Regions from separate parts of the Homo sapiens genome. Here all the other regions are reported to be linked to region 3. The links are microRNA targets in miRTarBase. Many come from high-throughput screens and were not tested one by one. Region 3 holds a microRNA gene; each other region holds the end of a gene's coding sequence.
Evidence for each region. The annotated mature microRNA hsa-miR-6762-5p reads CGGGGCCAUGGAGCAGCCUGUGU and lies in region 3 at 3,543-3,565, shown strand. An mRNA with a match to its seed (bases 2 to 7 or 8) in the 3' UTR can be bound and repressed. Matches are read on the target gene's strand: a 7mer-m8 pairs with bases 2 to 8, a 7mer-A1 pairs with bases 2 to 7 and ends in A, and an 8mer does both.

Region 1: the mRNA of TMEM179 is a reported target of hsa-miR-6762-5p. Seed matches in the 3' UTR shown: 7mer-m8 at 4,535-4,541, 8mer at 4,073-4,080, 7mer-m8 at 4,063-4,069 and 7mer-m8 at 2,352-2,358.
Region 2: miRTarBase lists SMYD5 as a target of hsa-miR-6762-5p. Seed matches in the 3' UTR shown: 8mer at 4,678-4,685, 7mer-A1 at 4,512-4,518 and 7mer-m8 at 3,654-3,660.

The regions. Positions count from the first base shown.
Region 1 is chr14:104,588,916-104,594,422 of GRCh38, forward strand. It overlaps TMEM179 (transmembrane protein 179), which reads right to left. Exons shown (of 4, transcript NM_001286389.2): 4 at 1,949-4,743. The coding sequence ends at 4,564. It overlaps C14orf180 (chromosome 14 open reading frame 180), which reads left to right. Exons shown (of 5, transcript NM_001008404.3): 5 at 1-1,600. Among named protein-coding and RNA genes, the nearest start is that of C14orf180, 12 kb to the left of the region's middle.
Region 2 is chr2:73,225,279-73,230,785 of GRCh38, reverse strand. It overlaps SMYD5 (SMYD family member 5), which reads right to left. Exons shown (of 13, transcript NM_006062.3): 12 at 5,085-5,155; 13 at 3,565-4,990. The coding sequence ends at 4,840. It overlaps PRADC1 (protease associated domain containing 1), which reads left to right. Exons shown (of 5, transcript NM_032319.3): 2 at 573-673; 3 at 1,216-1,325; 4 at 1,824-1,991; 5 at 2,212-2,776. The coding sequence ends at 2,332. Among named protein-coding and RNA genes, the nearest start is that of PRADC1, 5.2 kb to the left of the region's middle.
Region 3 is chr12:113,287,986-113,293,492 of GRCh38, forward strand. MIR6762 (microRNA 6762) reads left to right here and starts at 3,538; the gene lies at 3,538-3,623. It overlaps TPCN1 (two pore segment channel 1), which reads left to right. Exons shown (of 28, transcript NM_017901.6): 20 at 178-249; 21 at 773-862; 22 at 2,143-2,258; 23 at 2,967-3,013; 24 at 3,624-3,692; 25 at 3,889-3,973; 26 at 4,949-5,088; 27 at 5,284-5,364.

The DNA.
Region 1 (5,507 bases), not on the chromosome of region 3:
ACTAGGAAAAGGGGGACCCCGTGGCGTGAGATCGGACATGGGGGGCACAGCAGGCGGCCCCGCCACACTAGTCAGCACAGCCCTCCTGTCTCCTGTGTTGGGTCCATGTGAGATTTTATTAGAAAGAGGATTCGACTGCTAACAGTTGAGGCTCCCCAGGCTCACCCAAAGACCCCTCCCTCGTCCCAGCAGGAACTCCTGCTGCTGCTAGGGCCTGGCCCGGCCATCACCGTGTGCACCCTCTTGAGGAGGGGGACACACTGCCCGTGTTCAAGGGGCTGCTCGGAGGAGGCAAACCCAGCCTTTTGCGATTATGGCTTGTGGGGAATCCAGACCTCGAAACCCCACGGGGAGGGAAGGGTCTGGTTGTCAAGGTGGGTCCCTTTGATGTGAGGTGCCATCCTCTGAGCCCAGGTCTGACCCCCCTACCCAGCCCCGTGAGTCTGGAGAGGCCCCAGGGAAGGACCCCTCATCAGGGGCGGCTTCAGGTGTAGAAGCCGAGGGGACAGCAAGGGGCCCAGACACCCCCGACCTTCAGAACAGCCATCTGTGCCCAGCTCTGCAGGCCAGGCACACCCAGCTGAGCCCGGGGCCAGCCAGCACCACCCACCAGCTGGGGCCTGTGGGTCCCGGAGACCGTCTGTGGTTGTGGCTTTGTCGCCGGATTGCAGAGCTGAAGGGAGCCCTGTGGATGACAAACACCAGGGGCCTCTCCAGACCCTACGTGGGGGGAGGGCTGAACAAAGCAGGGAGGCCCACGGTTAGACACCAGGCAGAACTGCCCAGGAGAGACACAGGGACAATCAGACCAGCGTCCTCGAGGTTAGCCTGAGGCGGGTGGGCACGGCCGACCATCCACCCGGTGGTTCCTGTTTGTCCCACCACTTAACTGGGAGACACTGTTTTATTAAAACACACCGTGGCTTCCTTCAGTCTTGGTGTTTTTATAGAAATGAGAGAAACCAGAACCGATTTGCTAAGGAATCGGCCTCAGTGGCCAAAGCGGATGTCCTGGGCGCCTGGAACCTCCCCATCTCCTGCAGGCCTGGGAGTGGATGTGTCCACTCGGGCAGGGGCTGACCAAGCCCCTGGGTCTTGAGGGATGCCCGGCCGGCTCCCTTTGCCCTGCAGTCAGGGTGTGTCCCTGCAACTCCAGGTGCCAGGGAACAGGTGAAGTGGTCTCCAGGGTCACTTCCAGCTTTGGAATCCAGGGAGCCCAGAGTTGCGGGTGGAGGTAACAAAAGGGGCTGTTTCCAGAAGTGGCCCAGAAGGGACCATGGTGGGGGCTCCCCCGGGGACCCTCCAGCATCTCTCCCCAGGCCCAGCCCATCCCACCCCACCCCAGGAAGGAGGATGGGCAGGTTCCTGCCCCATATTCTGGATGCAGAAGCAGCGGCTCCCAGAGGTTGGGTCTCTCAGAGCAGTCACAGGCCCAGGCTCAGCCCTGTGTGCTTGGGACACCCCTCCAGCCCCGGTTCTGACGGGGGACACCGCACAGGCCGATCTCCCCCAGCCGCTGCTGTCTGTCCACTGCAAAGGCAACGCAAGGACGTGCCTGGCTTTGCGGGGTCCCACGCTACGACCTCAGGTGTTTTCGAATAAACATTGCTCAAAGATGGGCACCACACCCCCAAGAGATCCTTCGAAATGGATCCTCCCACCTGGGGAAGCTGCATGGGAAGCAGTGAGACTCGAAGCCACTAGAAAATGTACAGAGAGGAAGGCAGAACCTCGGGAAGGCCAACTTCTAATTCCTAAAAGCTTCGGACACGAAAGGCTCAAAGCCTGAGCAAACTGTGTGTGACCCACAAATTACAGACAGTTAGAACCACGAGCCAGGCCAGCCAACAGCGGAGAGGGCAGACAGAAGCCCCACACGCTCCTCCTCATCCCTGTTGGAGACTCGGGTGCTTTTGTTTTTATTTTGATTTTGAGGAATAGACACATGTAAGCTTAAGGATCTTTACTTTCAGTTTAGCCAGAGTGGAATTAGAACAGGGATATCATTAACAGCCAGCCAGGACAGAAGCGAAGGCGTCTCAGAAGCAACTTGGTGGACCAGCCTCAGGAACCCCGGGTCATGCCTGCACTTCCCACCTTCCTGCCTGGGGAGAGGCCCAATCCCCTGAGGGACCCTGGAGAGCCCACGACCAGGGCCGCCAGCCCCTGCCCAGCACACTGCAGGCCCAGCTGCCCCTTCCCAGGGCGATGTGTCTGGGCTCCGGAGACAGCCCAGTCCAGGGTGGGTCTATGTCTGCATGCAGCCGAGGATTTCCATCACCCTGGCCATGGGGCTGTTCCACACCTGCTCCTGGGATCCAGCAGTGCAGCCCCCAAGAACAGACCCAACCGGGGCCAAGCCTCAGGTTCCAGAAGCCACCCCTGCCTCCTGCCCCTCCTTCAGGGCCCTAGATGGCTGTGGCCTGGATCAGGGCTGGGCAGAGGGTGAGGCAGGAGCCACCCCACCTTCTGCTGGGGACACAGACAAGGAGCTCTCCGGACTGGAAAGAGTCCCCATGTCCAGTGGGTCAGGGCTGGAAGGGGAGACAGGGGACCCCATCAGCTTAGGGGGCCTCGGATTCTGTCCAAACCCCTTCCCTCGAGGACCTGGCTGCCAGCTGGAAACTCAGCTGGTCCCCAAGGCCAGAGCCCCCTTGAGCTTCCAGAGCCTCGATCCCCCTGGACTTGACACCCCCGATGGGCACCTGCCAGCCTCACTCCCGGGACCCAGGATGATGCCCCCACCAGGACCCTCCATGTGGACCCAGGCACGTGGCCTCCAGGAGGCTGGTGCCCAGCCACCCAGAGACACAAGCCAGCTGCTGATGGTGGACAGGGTGGGTCATGAACTCAGGGAGCCAGGGGCTCGCCTCTCCCCGGGAAGGTGGGCGCAGCAGCAGGGAGCACTTGGCAGCACTCGAGCCAAGAAACGGACAGCCCCTCATCGAGCCCCGGGTGGGGAGGCCCCCCGCCTCCGCCCCCGCCCCAGAACGAGTCCTCTGGAGGTGGACCCTGGGCTTTCCTGAGGGGCAGGGTCCACAGCCAAGCAGCCCCCTACGCCGGGGTCCCAGGTTCACATCCCAGCTCCTCCACTTGCTTCTGCGGGGCCTCAGCACACAGACTCTGCAGAATGGGAAGGCAGCTCCCTCCTCTCTCAGGTGGATGCTGGGCGTGGGAGCCCATGGGAGGGGCAGAGGGGCTGTCCACACAGCACCCACGGCTCCCATCACGCACACAATGCTCACACGCACAGGCGTGCACATGCTCACATGCAACACACGCACATTCACATGCACTTACGCACATGCTGCACACACTGCAGACACACCTGCCTAGACACTCACACCTACACACTCTTCCTCACACTCACATGCATGCACACTCATGTCACAGGGAGTCACACCCTCACACTCACATCCTCCCAGGCACACTCACAATCAAGCCTTCACACGCACAACAGTCACACCCTCACATGCAGTCACACCCACATGCACACTCATGCACAATCACATCCTCCCAGGCAGTCACTCGCACATGCAGTCACACATTCACTCACAGGCAGTCACACTCTCATGCACTCAGTCACACCCTCACATGCACACTCATGCACACTCATATCCTCCCATGCAGTCACACACTCTCACATGCAGTCACACCCTCTCGTGCACACTCAGTGACACCTTCACATGCAGTCACACCTGCACTGTCACACCCACACATGCACACTCAGTCACATCCTCTCATGCACTCATATACACAATCACACCCTCCCATGCACAAAGGCACTCACAATCACATCCTCCCATACTCACCCACACACAGACCCCTGCCATGGCTCCTGGCCCAGTCCTCTATGTGGTACGTGTGCCCCCGAAATCCCCAACCAGATGATGCCCCCGATTCTGTGGAGCCCAGATTACCACTTCCCTGACCCTCAGCCAAGCACAGACAGGACCCACACACAGTGAGGTGAACTCACAGGCCTCAGAAGCCTCCCTGAGCCCGGCCACAGGGTCTCCCAGGCCTATGGCACCCACCCAGGAGGGGGACTCAGCTGGGGAGGGGGCCAACCTGGGGCCAGAGGCTGGAAGGTGCCGTGAGCTCCTCCCCACACGCAGCCTCTGCCTGGATGGCAGAATTCATGCAGAATTCGTTCAGGGCTAAGTGACATCTGGCCACCCCTGGGCCAGCTGGCATGGAGACAGCATCCGGCCAGGGTTGGGGGAGACAAGCTGGACGCCCTCCACATAGGCTGGCCAGTCAGGTCCTACTGGGACAGCCAAGGGGCCCTGTGCGAGGCCTGGAGGTGCCCCCCGCCCCCGCCCCACACCCATAGTCTCTCTGCACCATCCTCATCAGGGAGCCGGCACCCACCCAGTCCACTGCCAGGCTCACAGGTGGGCACTGGGGCGCTCACCTCACTACACGTGGCGTCGAGGGGACACACGCAGGGCTGCATGTGGCCAGGGCCCAGGCAGAGCCCCCCAGCTGCTTCCCCAGGCAGGCCCGTGCCCCCGAGCGCAGCAGGGAGGTCGGGGCCAGCTCCCCCTGCCTGCACTGTGCCTAAATGACAGCGCTCTTCTCCTCTTGGAAGGAGGTGCGTGGGGACGGCCGGGCCAGCAGCAGCTCCTTCTCGTGGATCAGGCTGTCCAGCAGGTCCTCCTGACGGTAGTTGTGGTAGACCTTCAGGAAGGCCAGCGTGGTGATGGCCAGCCAGGCCAGCCATGAGGCCCAGAGGCCAAACTGCACAGAGGGCAGGGTCAGGGTCAGAAGCCGTTGGGGGTCCGCTGTCAGTGCAACCCCCTCCCACCAGCCCCCAGGCTCTGCTCTGCAGGGAAAGGACAGGACTCAGAGGAAGGAGGAGGCCGGGGACATGGGGCAGGGCCAGCTCCTGAAGACCCTGCCCAAGATCAAGCTTCTGAGTTCCTTCCTGCAGCCAGCATCGTTTTCCAGCACCTGTGGCCCTCCCGGAACCCACTCTGGTGCAAAAGCCCTGGGCACTCAGACCAACCCTCACTCCAGGCCGGCCAGAGGCCCCGAGGAGGGGCAGTGGCCAGTGGCGAGTGCTTTCTCCTCCAGCAGCTCCGGCCTGTCGGCTCTAAGGAGGGCGGGTAAACAGCGGAGGCTCCTCCAACCACCGGAATAAATTGACCTTTAGCCGCTGTTTCCAAACAGTTGAAGGAGAAACAATTTAATCAGAACCAGGCCTGAGCTACATTAAGCTGATTCTCATTTGAGCGTATTTGCCATCAGACTGCACTCACACCTTAATCCAACTGGCACAAATTAGGCCTGAGGCCTCTTCCACTCACTAAATTTGCATGAAGGTGTCTTTGACAGGTCCAGTTCATCTCGGCAAAGAGCATTCAGGCCCACCCATGTCCAGCACCCTTGGAGGGCTCCTGGCCAGGAGAAGCGTCCTCAGGCCAGCCACGGCCAGCAAGAGCCTTCAGAGGCCAGCCTGGGGTCCGGAATTGGACCTGAAGCCAGCGGGCCCTGATCAGTGC
Region 2 (5,507 bases), not on the chromosome of region 3:
CACAGTTTAAAAAGAGTTTAAATTTTAAATGCAAAGGGCAGTTATTGAAACCCTAGGTATGGTGATGTGCTCATAATTGCTAAGATGTTTTCGATTTCTGGTTGTTGCTTGGGGAGCAAGAATGGAGGCAGGGAGGCCAGGTAAGAAGCTGAGCTGTCAGGACAAGAGATGATAGTGACTAGACTTAAGGGGATGGCAGTGGGACCAGAAAGTCAACTTTTAAATTTTAGTGAGAATTGCTTTGTACGCAGGCCACTACATCTCTACCCTGAAACTCCCAGGTCTTCAGAGCAAAAATACTAACCCTGGAGCTCTCAGTTTTCCTGGCTTACTGCGTAAGCAGCAGCAGCAGCTGATATAAGCCTCTGGGGTTAATGACTCTGCATCAACTCTATCCTCCCCAGGACAGAGGCCATCTAGCCCCCAACCCTGCCACTAGTGGACCCCGTTGGCTGAAGCCAGGACCCTGAGCCCAGACTATAGCCAGCCCAGCTGAAGACACAGGGTCTGGGATCTGAACCTGAACCAGCTTGTTCCTGGGAGGCTTCTTACCTGTACTCTTTATCCTTCAGGCTTCCGTATCCATGATTATTTGTACTTTCAAGTGCTGAGTCCTGGGGACATTCGATACATCTTCACAGCCACACCTGCCAAGGACTTTGGTGGTATCTTTGTAAGTTAAGGGAGGCCCCTGATCTCTGATCCTCAACCTCCCCCTTCCCCTCACTGAGCTGCAGTGACCCTCTCATCCCACCTGAGTGCTGGGACAGGGAAGGGAGCAGAATCAGCTCTGCCTTCCATGAGCTGCAGCACAGAAAGGAAGCTCTTCCAGCTACTCCCCTGAGTATAATATAAACCTAGGCACCATGGAGGGACAAGTTGTCTTTTTAGGGGACATGAAGTGAAAAGCCAAGAGCACCAGCTTCCTCTGCCAGCTCTACCTGTGAACTATGTGACTTAAGGCACATCACTTCCTCTCTCTGGATCTACAACCAAGTCCCCTGCCTATCTCATAGAAGGGTAGGGTGGTGTAGGACAACCAGATAGGCCTTTGCGAGAATTAAGTAAAAATGTTTAAGTGTCTGGCGATACAGAAACCACTCCATGTTTCCTTCACACTTTATAAGGTGCCAATAAGATGGGATTGTCAGCCCAGTCCTAAAGCAGGTGTGTCTCATTACACTCTCACCTGTCCAAATGTTAAATGTTTTTCAGCACACAAGGTATGAGCAGATTCACCTTGTCCCCGCTGAACCTCCAGAGGCCTGCGGGGAACTCAGCAACGGTTTCTTCATCCAGGACCAGATTGCTCTGGTGGAGAGGGGGTAAGGAGTGGGCAGGCAGGACACGAGGAGTGGGCAGGCATACGGCAGATTCTGAGATTATTGGTAGTAGTGCTTTGAAAGAGCTGTTTTTGAAAATTTCATCTTTTTAAGCGTCTTTAAGAAATGTCTAGCCTGGGCAACATGGAGAAACCCTGTCTGTACAAAAAATACAAAAATTAGCTGGGCATGGTGGTGCACACCTGTGGTCCCAGCTACTCGAGGCTGAGGTGAGAGGATTGCTTGACCGCATGTTAAGGCTGCAGTGAGCCGAGATCACGTCACTGCACTCCAGCCTGGGCAACAGAGCAAAACCCAGTCTCCAAAAAAAAAGAAAAAGGAAAAAGAAATGTATTTAAATTATCCATGCTTTTAGCTATTTACTTATGAGCCTTTATAACAGATTCTTCATAGTCTGCCTTCTATACTCCCAGGGTGATGGTCTGGGGAAGGGGGAGCTAGGACCTGTCTTTCCTTTGGTCTTATCACCACCTCTTCCAGGGGCTGCTCCTTCCTCTCCAAGACTCGGGTGGTCCAGGAGCACGGCGGGCGGGCGGTGATCATCTCTGACAACGCAGTTGACAATGACAGCTTCTACGTGGAGATGATCCAGGACAGTACCCAGCGCACAGCTGACATCCCCGCCCTCTTCCTGCTCGGCCGAGACGGGTGAGGGCTCCTTGCCTCTGGCTTTATCAGCACCAGGCTGGGCGCCATGACTGGGTCAGGGGTAATCACCAGTCCCTTCTTGCAGGCCTCAACTTGGGGTGCTTCAGTTAGAGGGCAAAAAAAGATCTCGGGCTTTGGAACTCCCAGATTGATGGGGACAGTGGGGCATGATGGGGTACCAAGAAAGTGACCGTCACCACCTCTCTTCATGCCCTCCCAGCTACATGATCCGCCGCTCTCTGGAACAGCATGGGCTGCCATGGGCCATCATTTCCATCCCAGTCAATGTCACCAGCATCCCCACCTTTGAGCTGCTGCAACCGCCCTGGACCTTCTGGTAGAAGAGTTTGTCCCACATTCCAGCCATAAGTGACTCTGAGCTGGGAAGGGGAAACCCAGGAATTTTGCTACTTGGAATTTGGAGATAGCATCTGGGGACAAGTGGAGCCAGGTAGAGGAAAAGGGTTTGGGCGTTGCTAGGCTGAAAGGGAAGCCACACCACTGGCCTTCCCTTCCCCAGGGCCCCCAAGGGTGTCTCATGCTACAAGAAGAGGCAAGAGACAGGCCCCAGGGCTTCTGGCTAGAACCCGAAACAAAAGGAGCTGAAGGCAGGTGGCCTGAGAGCCATCTGTGACCTGTCACACTCACCTGGCTCCAGCCTCCCCTACCCAGGGTCTCTGCACAGTGACCTTCACAGCAGTTGTTGGAGTGGTTTAAAGAGCTGGTGTTTGGGGACTCAATAAACCCTCACTGACTTTTTAGCAATAAAGCTTCTCATCAGGGTTGCAACTGTGTCCTAGAATAAGAGCACACGGGTGGGCAGGACCTTCAAACTCACTCGTATCGTCCCATACTGTCGTTCTGAGGAAAGGAAACACCCACAGAGGACAGTGACTGGCCTAGGTCATTTGGGACCAGTGCTCAGACTGCTAGTCTTAGATCCCAGCACAGCTTCCTGCTAGGAGCCAAGGAAGCCCTGGGAAGCCAGAGTTCAGCCCCTCAGGAGAAGACTCATCTTAGAGCCTGGAACTGGGGGTCCAAACTGGACCTCAGGGCTAGGCATGGTGGCCCATGCCTGTAATCCCAGCACTTTGGGAGGCCGAGGTGGGAGGATCAGTTGAGGCCAAGAATTCAAGACCAGCCTTGGCAACAACATAGCAAGATCCCATCTCTACAGAAAAATTAAAAATTAGCTGGGTGTGGTGGTGTGAGCCTATAGTCCCAGCTACTCAGGAGGCGGAGGTGGGAGGATCACTTGGGCCCAGAAGTTCAAGGCTGTAGTGAGCTATGATTGCATTGCTGCATGCCAGCCTGGGTGACAAGGTGAGACCCTGTCTCAAAATTTAAAAACCACCCAAACTGGACCTCAGAGGACCCTTGCTCTTGGGCATTAGAACATTTGCATAGCAGGGTGTAAATAACAGTAGAGGTGAGCCCAAGCTGGTGAGCCTGGAGCTCCCATCTCCTACCATTACCTGGTCTAATTGGTATTCCTTTGCACCCACCTGTGCCTGCTGCACGCCCGGGGCAGCCTGCCCAGCCACTTGCCACAAAGCATTCCTGCAGAGGCCTCTCACCACTCACATTTTATTGAGAACAGTGGGCAGGGGGGCTGGGAGAGGAGTGCTGACCGTTGTGAAGGAGTAAGAACCCAATGGGTAAGGGGCCAGACAGGTTTCACCTGGCTCCATGGTCCAGGAAAGGGCCTGTGGGGTGGGCACCTGCCCTCTCTGGGATCCCTCAGCAGGAGAATGCAGCAGGCTCCTCCAGGAAAGGGAGGCATTGGGAGTGATGGGTTGTAATTCCCATAGCATCCAACCCAAGAGTGAGAGGGGTGGTGCTAATCTGGGGGTAGGAGGGGACAAGACAGGGCTACTCTCGAAGTATCTAGCCCAGCTCCTCGAGGTTTCTGGAAGACTTCAATGTTAGTCTGTGGAGACCCTAAAGATGGAGATTGAGGCCAGGAGAGCCCCTCACTGACCCATTTTAACTGGCCCCAGGAATACCAGAGCATCCTAATCTAAGGAGCGCAGGCCTGTCAAGCCCCAGGTCTCAGCCATGCTGCTGAGTGCTCATTGGGAAGCAGGTGTGAGAAAGGGTGATGACCCACTATGTGTCCCTCCTGAGGAAGGCAGAGGCCTTTTCCATACTCCATAAGGCCAGCCACTGTGCCAGGTCCTGAGAGGCAAGGCACGAGTCTGGGGGAGGGGTTAATCTCCACTTCCCCAGATGTCCAAATGGGGGTGTGGGTGGGGGAAGTAATCCCCCTGGTCCAGCATTCCCAGGAGACAGCCTCAGGGAAGGGGCTCAGGATGCCCAGATCCTCCTGCCCGCCTCTGCTTGCTGGGCCAGTGGTCAAGCAGTTGCCTTACCAGCCACAGCTGTGGTGGGGGGAGGTGAGGACGCCTCACCACCTCCCATCTCTGCTTCAATGAACTCGGTCTTTCTTTTACCCCTCAAAAGAAATCAACAGCAAGTTGAGAGGGGAGAAGCCTCAGGTGAAGGGGTGAGTATGGGCCGTGGGGCCGAGGGGAAGAAACACTGTTAGGCCCTGGCCCTGATTCCAGCCCCTCAAACCCTAGAGTGGAGGAACCTCAAGGGGAGGCCAGTTGTGAAAGGCTCAGTGCCAGTGCAGAGTCTGAGCCAACTCAGCAGCAGTGTCCAGGGCATGAGGTCTGGTGGGGGTTGGGGCCAGAGATCCAGGCTCTCTCCTACCCTCTAGCAGAGAGGGCTGGAATGGGGAAAGCAGGCAATGGGAGTGGGAAGTTCCCTCCAAGCCACTTCTCTGGGGGAAGAGCCCCCTTTTCTGGCAGGGTCTAGGGCAGGGCCCTTTCTGGGCAGGGCAACATCACACATCAGTCATCTCATCCCCCAGCTCTGCATCTTCTGGCTCTCCTTCCTCCTCCTCCTCCTCTTCCTCTTCCTCTTCTGAGGTCACATTGGGTTCATCAGCCTCTGCCAGGCATTTGGGACAGGAACAGACAAATAGATAGTTCTCCCTGCAGCGGTGGGGGATGGTGAGGGGGAAAAGTCAGGGAGCTATGGGTAGAGGACCCCAGAGCCCAGCTGCACAACCATGTCCCCAGCTGGCACCTGAGGATCTTGTGGCGGCTGTGGCGGCTGCGCTCCCGCTGACAGCAGTCCAAGTAGCTGATACAAATTTCCTGTAGGGCAGAGAAGTGCAGTCTGATGGTCTGTGCTCTTTTAAATGGCATAAGGACCTCCCCAACAGCTACCCTATCTCCAACCACTGCCCCATCTCTAGGAGCCAAGTTTGCGTTGCCCTTCAGTGAAGGGGCTGGCTGCCCTCATCCAGTTCCCAGTGCCTTCAGTAGGCAGGCCACTATAAGGCTCCAACAGCCTGTGCCTGAGACAGAGGAGACTGGTTGGCCTCAGGCCGTGGTGAAAGCCAGTCAATGGCCAAGGTCTGCAGCTGGGATCAGAGGTCTTGGTATGATGCTACTTGCCCTCAAGAAGATTCAACCAGGCACTGTGCCTGCACTAACAGACAAGACC
Region 3 (5,507 bases):
TGAATCACCTGAGCCCAGCTCAGGGTTGGTGGCGCCCAAGGGAGTGGACGCAGGTGGAGGAGAGGCCCTCACCTGTCTTCACCGCATGGCGTGTGGAAGGCGGGGCCGGCATGTTCTGAGGGCGGGGGCTGAGGCGTGCACCTGTGTGTGGAGGTGACGGGTGTCCTCCTCGCTCAGGTTGTTTAAGTTGAAGGAGCGCTACCGCAACGTGCTGGACACCATGTTCGAGCTGCTGCCCCGGATGGCCAGGTACTGCCAGCCCCCACCCTGGCCTGCAGGTCCAGGTGCCGTGTGGCAGTGCCCCGTGGGGGCGGGAGCCGAGTGGCAGTCGGGGGAAAGGAGTTCCACAAAGGACTGCAATCGAGGGCCTGACGGGGCTCCAAGGAGCCTGGAATCTTGACCACCACAGGTCTCCTGGGCACCATTTTTCTCCACTGACCTGTCTGACATATTTAGTAGGGAGGGCAGGGAGCTGTCAACTCGCTTACCACCTGTGTCTACATTCACAGGTAAGGGGTCACCTGTGAGTCTACCTTCACAGGTAAGGGGTGAATCTCTGGGAAAGGGGCATTTGTTCATAGCGTCCTGACTTGAGCTGTTTTTCACCCCAGAGCTGCCCCACGAGGCCCCTTCCCCGCAGGCACTTTCCAGTTGGTGAACCGACCAGGGGCATGGCCCTGCAGTCAGCCCCACGGGTCCGAGGAGGCCGGGGCTGCAGAGGAGCCGTTCCCTCCTGCCGGCCCCGCGTCACCCTGCCCCTGTCGCCCCACAGCCTGGGCCTCACCCTGCTCATCTTTTACTACTCCTTCGCCATCGTGGGCATGGAGTTCTTCTGCGGGATCGTCTTCCCCAACTGCTGCAAGTGAGTAGGCCCCACCCAGCCCCAGGCAGCCTGCATTTCCCGGGCAGAGGGCTGGCCAGGGCCAGGATTGGTGTCCTTGTGGCCTTGGGGTCCTCGGGGATGTTCCTGTCTAAGCAACCACCTTGCTTTGCTTTCAGGGCTTAGTTGAGTGCAGTGAGCTAAATGAGGGGCCTGGACTCGGGGTCCCTGTTTCTCCATCCCCCAGGCAGGGTTGGGAGCTGTCAGCTCACCCTCTGCCGAGGGCTGGAGGCCACCCCCACAGTAGCCTGGGTCCCAAGGTCAAGTCCCATGGCTTCCTCCCACTTCTCTCCTGGAGTGGCTGGGGACCTGGGCCAAGACCAGTCTTCTAGGGACAGCATCGTAGGATAAGACAGACGGACACGTGCAGGAAGGTCATGGTGCTCAGGGATGGGGAGCAGAGAGTGAAATCTCCCATGAGCACTCCCTTTCTCCTGAGCCGCCACAGTGAAATCACTGCACACTGCCATTCATTCATCCTCAATTCAGAGAGTCCTCTTACATTTGGTCTTTACAGCCTCAAGCACCGATGAAGAAACAGTTTTACAAAGACACTGGTAGCTTTGAGACCCAGTTTGAGTGTCAAGCTTGGTCTGGAACCAGAAGCCTATAGCAGTGGGTCCCAGACTTTAGAGCCCATTGCAGTCACCAGGGAGCTTAGTGCAAGCTCCAGACCTCACTCTTGTGTCTGATGCATGCGTGTGGGAGGAGGCTCCCTGGTGGCCCAAGCACTAGACTTTTATAAACATTAGCATGGATATTAACAGAACAGCCATAAAAGATTGGAAGGAAAGTGGCAAATAAGAGCTCCTCAAAACAGGGCCAACCTTTTCAAATACTTGCTCAGGCCAAGTATTGGGGAAGCCCCAGTAGGGAATTCCTTCCCTGGGACTGTGGCCTAGTGTCCAGCCTCAAGAGCAGATCCTAGATGGGGCAGGTGCAGAGGAGGCCCTTGCCTCTCCTCCCTCCCCTGCAAGCAACGGTGAGAGAGAAGGCCCTGCCTGCAGCAGACAACTTCCAGGTGACAGAGGTGGGTCAGGCTGGCCAGGGGATCCCGCCAAGCCCAGCAGGCAGGAATAGCCAAGGGCATTCCTTCAGCAGGGACCCAGGCATGAGGTGGAGAGGGTTAGGCAGGAAACCAGGCTGCGGGCAGAACAGAAGGATCCTTGGCCAGAACTCGGTTTGTTTCAGACTTCTGTCCTCTCTGGAGGTGACTGATCGCCTTGTGACCCTCCCTCCTTTCTCCCTTGTGCTCCGGCCAGCACGAGTACAGTGGCAGATGCCTACCGCTGGCGCAACCACACCGTGGGCAACAGGACCGTGGTGGAGGAAGGCTACTATTATCTCAATAATTTTGACAACATCCTCAACAGCTTTGGTGAGTGGGAAAAATCACAGGGGGCACATTCCCTGGGGACCCCACCCTTGTCACCCTTGTCACCACGGGTCCCAGAGGTGGTGTAGCAAGTGTCTGGGCCACACTTTCTGGAAGCCTCCCTGGCCCAGGTGGAGGACTTGGTCTGCCCAGCTTTGGCAGTACAGTCCAGGCTGGATCCTGGAGCTCACTCAGTTGCCTGATTCCACTCTTTCCTGATATTTTCTCAGTACCGGGGAGGACAAGAGTTGCAAGCCTTAGCTGGGCGGGGTCCCCTCATCACAGTGCCACTTGCAGAATGGGACCCAGCCACACCACTGCTGCTGCAGCTGCACTGCCCCCTGGCTCAGACTGCACACAGCCCTCTGCCCACTCCCATGAAGAGGCGAACACAGCCAAACCGCCTCTCCAGAAAAAGGGTGTGCCCCCATGACACCCCAGATCTGCACCCAGTAAGATCCAGATAGTCTGATGTGGCACAGGCTGCTGAGGCAGAGGGTGTGTTCTCTTGGGGGCAGGCCATGATGTCCTGTGGAGCCAGCGCCCTAGGAGTGCCTTGCCTGGTCTTTCCTGGAGCTCACAACCCAAGCGGTCATATGGTGACCCTCTCATCTTAGCACATGGCACCCAGGATAGGTGGCAAGAGGCCACTTGAAATTGACTTTGAAGTGGGGTCTCATCAGGATGCTTCTTTCTCTCTTCCCTCGGCAGTGACCCTGTTTGAGCTCACAGTTGTCAACAACTGGTACATCATCATGGTAAGAGCTCGGGCAGCTCTGGGGGTATCTTCCCGCCAGCCCTGGGGTCGGCCCTGGGTCTCCCCCAACCCAGAGTATATAATTCTTCCCGTAGCTTGCAGGGCTGGGGGTCTTGAGTCATGCTGTGTTGGTGTTCAGTGGGGAGGCCACAGGATGGCTGGGCCCCAGGAGCCACCCCTCCCAGTGTTGGCTGGACTCGGCTGTTACTCCCATCTCCCTGCATGTCCCCAGCAGCCAGGAGATGCCACTTAGACTCTGGGTCTCTGTCCTGTCTCGCCCACTGTAGAGATGACTTTTCCCTCTAGTGACAAAGTGGCGAGCATTGCTGATCTCTTTATTCCATTCCTTAAACTTTCCCGACTCCCAGCCCTACTGGGATAAAGGCTGCCCTGGTTCTGGATCCAGTCGTCCAGGGGAGTGGCCAGGGCTCCTTCAGCAGTCAGGAATTAGTGTTAGGCCCAGAGGGGCAAGCTTCCTCTCCTCCATCTCTCACAACCAGCCACAAATCACGGTGGGGTCTGCGAAGAGCCGGGGCCATGGAGCAGCCTGTGTAGACGGGGACCTGCCCTGCATGGGCACCCCCTCACTGGCTGCTTCCCTTGGTCTCCAGGAAGGCGTCACCTCTCAGACCTCCCACTGGAGCCGCCTCTACTTCATGACCTTTTACATTGTGACCATGGTAGGTCCCGGACCACAGAACGCTCTTTGTCCTTCGTCTTCCACATCACCAGCTGCCCCTGCTCTTCAGCCTGCAGCGTCAGGGAGTGGGGCTGGGTCCCATCTGGCCGGACTCTGTTGGGCGTGGGCTGCGCAGCCACGGACACCTACCCACCCTCCTCCCCTGCCTCTGCCCCTCCCTCCCTATCCCTGGCCAGGTGGTGATGACGATCATTGTCGCCTTTATCCTCGAGGCCTTCGTCTTCCGAATGAACTACAGCCGCAAGAACCAGGACTCGGAAGGTCTGTGCAGGGATGATGCCTTGGGCATTTGATATCTGCCGCCTACCCAGCTCTGTCTGTCTGTCTGGGTGGCTGTCCAGCCAGCCATCAGGCTGTCATTTTTCTGCTGTCTGGCTGTCCAGCTTATCTATCTGGCTTGTCTTTCTAGATCTTGTATTTGCATTGATTTTCAAATATTTAATGTCAGAAAACGTAATCTAACTTTAAAATAAGACAGAGCATGTCATAGTTGGAGAAAAATCAAGAAGTAGAGAAAGGCTTATGTGGCAGCAGCAGCCCCTGCCCTGCCTTTCCCTCCCGTCCTCCAGAGGCTTCTCCTTCTTGGCTATTTCTTCTGTTAGTCATCTCCACGTTTCTCAATAATAGGTTCACACTACGGTTCTTGATTTAAATGGTGTAAATATTGCTTATGGCACAGGCGAATCGTATTCCTGCTGCAACTGGATGGTGCTGGCTTTAGTGACTGCCTCACTCTTCCCAGATTGCACAGCTTTCTGTGTGCTGACCCTCCCTTCTTCCCAAATTCTCCATCAAAACTGTCTGCACTTGATCTCTTGAGCCCAGGAGGTCAAGACTGCAGTGAGCCATGATCACACCACTGCACTCCAGCCTGGGCAGCGGAGTGAGACCCTGTCTCTTAAAAGAAACAGAAAACCCTGTGCCCACACTTGTTACCTCTCATCCTCAGATCTCTGTGCTATCAGACCATCTGACCATTTTCTCTGTGCTTAGAGGCCCCTTCCTGAAACCCTCTGGCCCTGTAACAGCTGCCAGCTAGACCTGCGCTCCTGACATCACAGCAGAGGGAGGGGAAGGGAAAGGAGGGCCAACGAGGAGAGCAGGACACCAATGCAGTGTCGGTTTAGAGAGAGAACCTTAAGACCCCCTGCGGAAGGGGGCAAGGAGGTACGAGACCCAGCCAGGTTGGCAGCTGCAGCCCCGGGCCCTTCCCACACCTGCCTTCCATCCCTGCAGTTGATGGTGGCATCACCCTTGAGAAGGAAATCTCCAAAGAAGAGCTGGTTGCCGTCCTGGAGCTCTACCGGGAGGCACGGGGGGCCTCCTCGGATGTCACCAGGCTGCTGGAGACCCTCTCCCAGATGGAGAGATACCAGGTGAGGAGCCCAGGCCCTGGTCCGAAGGAGGGAGGCAGGTTTCAGTGTGGGTGGCATAATCCCTTCCCTCAGATATTGGTAACATTTTGAGTGACACAGTTGCAAAAGCCAGAGAAGTGGGAGACGCCAACTGTGGCACCAGGGGTGGGACCTGAATATCTGCAGCCGAGCCCTGCAGCCTCTGCTCTTCCTTAGCAACATTCCATGGTGTTTCTGGGACGGCGATCAAGGACCAAGAGCGACCTGAGCCTGAAGATGTACCAGGAGGAGATCCAGGTAGGAGCCTGGCCGACCACGCTGCGAATCCTCCCCCAAGCTATGTCCTGGGAGGGGCAGGGAGCTGCTCTCTGGCCCTCTGAGTAGAGGGAGAAGGCTGGTAGAGAGATGCAGACCGTCCATCGGGACCACTGCTGGGGTTG